Homo sapiens: one gene and its partner. The protein of the gene in region 2 purifies or fractionates together with the protein of the main gene of each other region. This does not show direct contact. Each region holds a gene or a part of one and is shown on either strand. Other genes may lie near its edges. The genes, in order: MVK and C17orf75.

Region 1 (3,817 bases), on a different chromosome or scaffold from region 2:
ACCATGCCTGGCTAAATTTTTAAATTTTTGTAGAGATGGAGTCTCACTGTGTTGCCCAGGCTGGTCTCAAACTCCTGGGCTCATGTGATCCAACTGCCTTGGCCTCTGAAAGTGCTGGGATTAGAGGCATGAGCGACTGCACCCGGCCCCAGCCTCTCTGTTGTTGTTTTTGTTGTTTTTGTTTTTGTCCAGAACCCAAAGGGAAAAAAACCTCAAGGGGGCAGCCCTTCCCTTGAGCAGCAGATGCTGGCTCAGTGGCCAGGCTCTATGCTGAGGACACATTCGGAAACGGCCTGATACTTGCCGTCCGAAGCAGAATTTCAACTTGAGAGAGGCATGTCCCCTTAAGTGGGTGAGGGGCATTCCAGAATCTTCCAGGCTGGGTGGGGTGGGTACGTGGAATTTGAAGACGCACATTATTACAATTTTTCTATTTGGGAAATGGGAAAAGCACTTCGTGGAAATTACCAAACATGAAGTTTGACAGTTCTTGCTTGGGGGAAATACATGTAAGATGTAGCGATTCGGACCTTTCTGGTGATCAAAAGCAGACCCGTGTTACACATGGTTGGGGAGCACCGTCTGGCGGGAGAGGCCCCGGTGAACACACAATCCTAGTGTGCGGTGGTGAGGCAGCGGTGGAGGGAGGGAGGGCAGGCGGGGGTCCTAGAAGGGGAGCCAGGAGGGTCTTTGTGGGCAGCTACGGAAAGTGTCACAGTGGAAGCGACATTTGATAAGGCCTTGAGAGATGGGTAGGGATTTCTCTGTGGGATAAGGAGGTGCACGGCTATTGCAGGCAGAGGGGCCAGCCTGTGCTCAGAGCAGGCCCACAGAAAAGCCTAGCATGTGGGCACAGGAAGGAGGTGGGAGAAAGGGGTTGACAGCTTGCCAGGTGCTTCTGGGAAGGGCTCTGGTTGAATGACCCAGGGATTTAAATGAACTTGATACCTGTTTTCTAGTTGTCTGATTCAGCATGAGTTCCTGATGTTCAATAGGGATACATTTGGGGTCAGGAATTCTCCCCCAGTTGAGAAAACTGGACCAGATGCTTGGAGTCAGGCCTGGGCCTGGCCCCTGGTTCAGTGCTGGCACCCCACTGCCCTGCGGGAGAGTCACGTTTCACACCCTGGTGTGTTTCAGGGCCCTGCCGAGCCTGGATATCGTAGTGTGGTCGGAGCTGCCCCCCGGGGCGGGCTTGGGCTCCAGCGCCGCCTACTCGGTGTGTCTGGCAGCAGCCCTCCTGACTGTGTGCGAGGAGATCCCAAACCCGCTGAAGGACGGGGATTGCGTCAACAGGTAACCATGGTCCTTACCTGGCCAGTGTCCCTCCCGCACGGCAGGACAGGGACGTGGCTTCTCTCACTGAGACCTCACCACCTCCCTGTGAGGTGAGAGGTGTCATAGTGGCCATTTTAACATGAGGAAGCTGAGCCCCGAGAGGTCAAATGGCTGGCCCAGGGCCACACAGCTAGTGCTGGCAGAGTGGGATTTGAACTCAGAGTCTGAGCTTTTCTCTCCTGCTCTCCACCACCTCTGCTCACCCCCATCTTGGCTCTGTTGGTTTCAAGCGCCCATGGTATGGTAGAAAGAGCTGGAGTCCAGATCTAGAGGGCAGCAGGTTAGATGAACCCTCCCACCTCTGCATTGACTCAGGCTAGGACAGTGTTCTCCTCTGTATGGTAATGACAGTGCCCTAGGGGTGATTGTCCAGTTTTACCACATGGTTATGAAAGAAACTAAGAGTTTGCTGAGAAATCCACATTAGGGGGTGTGCCCATTAGACTAGGGCATCTCTCCTCCTACGGGGCCGTCTCCACGGAGGGCGTGTCACCTCTCTGCGTTCCTATTGACCACGTGAGTCAGTGAGGCCTGTCCAGACAGGCTTGACCACAGACCATTTCTATCATTAGGAGAATGTTCCTTGAGAAACCACCCAGTGCGCAGAGGTTACGCAGTTTGTCCCAGGACCAGGAGTTGTGGATGAGGCCCCCAAATGCAGAGCTCTGTCCTCTTCCTGGGCTTGTTTTTGTTTTGTTTTGTTTTGTTTTCTGAGCTTGGTTTTTTTGTTTGTTTGTTTGTTTGTTTGTTTGTTTGTTTTTTGAGATGGAGTCTCGCTCTGTCACCCAGGCTGGAGTGCAGTGGTGTGATCTTGGCTCACTGCAACCTCTGCCTCCAGGTTCAAGTGATTTTCCACGGGCCAAAGGACTGGCCCTGTCTTTCAAAAGGTGGAGGGTGACTGTGTGTGTGCACTTGCATGTGTGTGTGTTCTTATGCTGCTTCTAACCATTTCTCCCACCTTCCCCTGAAGGCCAGTCATTCCTTCTCAGAACCCTTAGGGAGAGTAGACCTCCCACCCCACCCCACCCCACCACACCCCACCCATCATGTGTTTCTGAGTCGGAAAGGACTGGAGCCCAGTCTCCTTTGAAGACTCAAATCTGAGCCCCCTAAAAAACAAACTGTGTAGAGCAGGAGGAAGACTCACATTTGTTGAGAGGGCCAGGCCCTGGGCTAGGTCAGCTGCCTGAGTTACCTTCCCCCGCCTCCATCACTCACTTCATCCCAGGCACGCTGCCACCTGTTGGTCCCTGGGAAGGGCCAGCCAGCTCTGGTGTGGTTCCAGTGCTGCACAAGTGGTGTGTCTGGAATGCACCCCACACACACACCTTGCCCAGCTGGCTCCCCTTGTCCTTCAGGCACCACCACCCCGCCCCAGCCCCCAGCAATTCAGCCCATCGTACTCTTACAGAAACACCTGGTTTGTTTTTGTTTTTGTTTTTTTAACTATATTATCATTTATTAAATGTAATTAGGTAGCTCTGGATCCTTGGTCTGTTTTTTTTTTCTTTTATTATTATTATACTTTAAGTTTTAGGGTACATGTGCACAATGTGCAGGTTAGTTACATATGTATACATGTGCCATGCTGGTGTGCTGCACCCATTAGCTCATCATTTAGCATTAGGTATATCTCCTAATGCTATCCCTCCCCTCTCCCCCCATCCCACCACAGTCCCCAGAGTGTGATGTTCCCCTTCCTGTGTCCATGTGTTCTCATTGTTCAATTCCCACCTATGAGTGAGAATATGCGGTGTTTGGTTTTTTGTTCTTGCGATAGTTTACTGAGAATGATGATTTCCAATTTCATCCATGTCCCTACAAAGGACATGAACTCATCATTTTTTATGGCTGCATAGTGTTCCATGGTGTATATGTGCCACATTTTCTTAATCCAGTCTATCATTGTTGGACATTTGGGTGGGTTCCAAGTCTTTGCTATTGTGAATAGTGCTGCAATAAACACACGTGTGCATGTGTCTTTATAGCAGCATGATTTATAGTCCTTTGGGTATATACCCAGTAATGGGATGGCTGGGTCAAATGGTATTTCTAGTTCTACATCCCTGAGGAATCGCCACACTGACTTCCACAATGGTTGAACTAGTTTACAGTCCCACCAACAGTGTAAAAGTGTTCCTATTTCTCCACATCCTCTCCAGCACCTGTTGAGAAACACCTGCTTTGAAGTCACATATTGCAGTGTCATGGATTTGTTTGTATTTGAATACTGATCGCTTTCTGACCTTCACTTTCTCCATTAGACTCTAAGCTCCAAGAAGTCAGGGACCTTGTCTGTTTTGCTCCCTACTAGGAGCTTAGTCACAGGCACATAGCAGTTGCTCAATAAATGCTGAATGAATAAGTGAGTGTATCTTGTTGGCACCATTAAGTTAGTAGCTAAGAGCTTGGGCTCCAAGTCAGCAGATGTGGTCCTGACCCAGCAGTGAGTAGCACTGTGATCTCCAGGATGCTGTTT
Region 2 (3,817 bases):
GAAATGGGGTCCTACCATGTTGCCCAGGCTAATAAGTTTTGTACTTAGAAGAAGAAAAGTGTTGATTATTAAAACTAAATTTGTATACAGTTTGTATTTTCACAAACTTTTATGTAGTTTTCCTTACAAAGGGGAAATATAGCAGATACTCTCTTATTTTCATTTTCAGATGAGGAAATAAACTCAGAGTTTATGTAAACTTAAGTCATGAGGCTGGTCAAATTGATGGAGTTCAGGCTTAAACATGAGCATTCTTAGTCCAATTCCAACTGTCTTTCCATTACACCTCTCCTTTTTTGTTTTGTTTTGTTTTTTTTAAGACAGAGTCTCACTCTGTTGCCCAGACTGGAGTACAGTAGCATGATCTTGGCTTACTGCAACCTCCGCCTCCCTGGTTCAAGCAATTCTCCTGCCTCAGCCTCCCGAATAGCTGGGATTACAGGCATGCACCACCATACCCGGCTAATTTTTGTATTTTTAGTAGAGATGGGGTTTCACCATGTTGGCCAGGCTGGTCTCGAACTCCTGACCTCAGGTGATTCACCCGCCTTGGCCTCCCAAAGTGCTGGGATTACAGGTGTGAGCCACTGTGCCCGGCCTCCATTACACCTCTTTATTCTAGTTCAACTCAGACCGTGAAGTTAGCATACAGGTCCTCAGGAGTTTGAGGCCACTTCCCAAGGATAAGGCCACCTTCAGGCACATCTGCCTTAAACATCAATTTGTGAAGCTTTGGGAGAGGGGAGAACATACTTTTTTTTAATATAAACATGGGTATGAACTAGAGTGAAATTTGTGTGAATTTTTCACATAAGACAGGAGAATTCAAAGAAATTTCATGTATGTTAGTGGCTGCTTTAACTAAAGCCCTCCAGGGTATACATTCATTTTTCTTTGCTGCTGCAAGTACACCAACGAGAAGTCTGGGAAGCTCTGAGTTAGTGGGCAGTTTAATGGTGTTGCCAGATCAAGATGACCAGAATTCAGAGCAGTCCACAAAATTATAGATGCATGAGTAACCAAAATAATGCATTTTACATTTTCTTTCTTTTCTAGAATTCCAGGTTACCGAGTTGGTTGTTATTACTGCCTTTTCCAAAATGAAAAACTGCTTCCTGAAACAGTAACGATAGACTCTGAACGTAACCCTTCAGAATATGTGGTCTGTTTTTTAGGAGGGTCTGAAAAAGGACTTGAGCTATATCCTTTCTTTGGTTTTTGAGAACATCAGGAAGGAAAACATGGGAAGGCAGGTGGAAGAATATTACTACCAACCTCCAAAAAGCTTTTCTACTCCTCGTGTATTTAGTTGAATTTCATACCTTCATGTGGCCATTTTGCCTTGGCTTGTTTGCATTTGCAGCTCACATTATTTGAGAGATTTTATATTTCTTGTTGAGAGATGAAATACTGTCTTCATTATTCATCCTTTATTGCTTCCTTAAGAACATACTTTCAGGCTTGAATTGGACAAGTACATTCAAGGGCTGAAAAATAACATGAATTGTGAGGTAAGGTGACTGACTTAATGGTTTTTAAAGACTGAAATGGGGCCAGGCTCAGTGGCTCACGCCTGTAATCCCAGCACTTTGGGAGGCCGAGGTGGGCAGATCACAAGGTCAGAGACCAGCCTGGTCAATATGATGAAACTTCATCTCTACTAAAACTTAGCCAGGCATGGTGGCAGGCACCTGTAGTCCCAGCTACTTGGGAGGCTGAGGCAGGAGAATCGCTTGAACCCGGGAGGCAGAGGTTTCAGTGAGCCGAGATTGCACCACTGCACTCCAGCCTGAGCGACAGAGTTAAAAAAATAAAATAATGACTGAAATGATTAATATACTGTGATTGCTCTACTTGTCAAATCATATAGGTAGACACAAAGACGCCTGTATTCTAGAAACTTGCCACCTTGTGAGCTAGTAGAGAGGTGAATTTTTTTTTTTTTTAGACAGGGTCTTGCTTTGTTGCCCAGGCTGCAGGGCAGTGGCGCGATCAGGCTCACTGCAGCCTCAGCTTCTTGGGGCTCAAGCAGTCTTCTCGCCTCAGCCTCCTAAACAGCTGGGACTACAGGCAAATACCAACACGCCTGGCTAACTTTTGGTATTTTTTGTCGAGATGGGGATCTCACTTTGTTGCCCAGGCTGGTCTAGGATTCCTGGCCTCAAGCAATCCTCCCTCCTCAGCCACCCAAAGTGCTGAGATTACAGACACGAGCCATTGTGCCCAGCCTACAGGTGGTTTCTTTTTCTTTTTCATTTTTTGAGATAGGGTCTCACTCTATCACCCAGGCTGGAGTGCAGTGGCACGATCATGGCTTACTGCAGCCTTTTCTGGGCTCCAGCGATCCTCCCACCTCAGCCTCCCAAGTAGCTGGTACCACAGGCATGCACCACCATGCCCAGCTAATTGTATTTTTGGTAGAGGTGGGGTTTTGCCATATTGCCCAGGCTTGTCTTGAACTCTTGAACTGCTGAGCTCAAGTAATCCACCTGCCTCGGCCTCCCAAAGTGCTGGGATTACAGGTATGAACCACTGCACCCAGCCTACAGGTGATCTTAAAGGGATACAGGAAACATAGTCCTGTAAGTGCTGAAAGTTTCACAAGACTACGTCTGATGTTTTGTATCTATGAAAAATTCGATCTATTCAATGGCATGTAGTAACATGCCTGGCGAGGAAGAGGATGTCCTTTTCCTGATTTCTAGGCATATAAGATTTATATTATGGTCAGAAGTACTGGTCCATGCAGCCTCTGGCACCAAAGACATGCTATGCAATAGTATGGCTGTTCTTGAACTAAACATCAAAGATTCTTAAAAACATTCTATTTTCATTAATTGATCTTTTATGAATTAGGCATATCCATATCAACTTATTCAAACCTTTGAAAAACTGGCTGGGTGTGGTGGCTCACACCTGTAATCTCAGCACTTTGAGAGGCCAAAGCGGGCAGATCACTTGAGCCCAGGAGTTCAAGGCCAGCCTGGGCAACAAAGTGAAACCCCATCTCTACAACAAATACAAAAATTAGCCAGGCATGGTGGCACGCACCTGTAGTCCCAGCTACTTGGGAGGCTGAGGTGGGAGGATCGCTTGAGCCTGGGAAGTTGAGGCTGCAGTGAGCTATGATTGCACCACTGCACTCCAGCCTGGATGACAGAGTGAGACCCTGTCTCAAAAAAGCAAACAAAAACAATGCTTTCAGCTTGTAGCAGTTGTTAGTCATGACTCTCACAAATTTACTACCCATTACATATATAGTAGAAGTTATACTTTTCACATACTTAGAAGATACTGCAGGAGAGAGGAAGGGATAGTGCAGGAGTGAGCAACTGATGCAAGTCTAATAGAGTTGTTCTCCCGGACTAGAGCTCTTCGTGTGTGACACTAGTCTTCAGGGAGCAGTATAGCCTAGAAAGCCAGATGTGCTCACGGTAGCATGTCTGACATCTGGAGTGGAGTGGAGTGCTTTGATGAGTTACTTGTATCCTTCCCCATTCACATTCTGAATACGAATGAATTCTCTATCTACATGACTAATTCAAAAGGCACTTAATAAGCTCATACTATGCATGTTTTAGACACTGTACCACAGGTGCCAGGGAAATGAGGATTATTGAGTGAGTATCTCCATTGAGTGCACAGTACAGTGGGAGGAGAGGGACTTGTGAGTGCCCAACTCTTCCCTGTGAAGAAATAGCATGGAACCCTATTCAGTCTCTTCATTTTATAGAATGCATTTCTTGGTGTGTTTTAAATAAATTCAGTACAGATTTAACCCTCACCCTGCCCAACAAGCCAGGAAAGGTATATCACA

What was found.
Region 1: the proteins of C17orf75 (region 2) and MVK purify together in Homo sapiens (affinity purification with mass spectrometry; one large-scale study listed by BioGRID and IntAct). This does not show direct contact.

The regions. Positions count from the first base shown.
Region 1 is NC_000012.12:109,580,255-109,584,071, forward strand, and holds part of MVK (mevalonate kinase), read left to right. Parts: intron 1-1,140; coding exon 1,141-1,296; intron 1,297-3,817. UniProt on the Homo sapiens protein: Catalyzes the phosphorylation of mevalonate to mevalonate 5-phosphate, a key step in isoprenoid and cholesterol biosynthesis.
Region 2 is NC_000017.11:32,335,591-32,339,407, reverse strand, and holds part of C17orf75 (protein Njmu-R1), read left to right. Parts: intron 1-1,056; coding exon 1,057-1,200; intron 1,201-1,453; coding exon 1,454-1,511; intron 1,512-3,817. UniProt on the Homo sapiens protein: As component of the WDR11 complex acts together with TBC1D23 to facilitate the golgin-mediated capture of vesicles generated using AP-1. May have a role in spermatogenesis.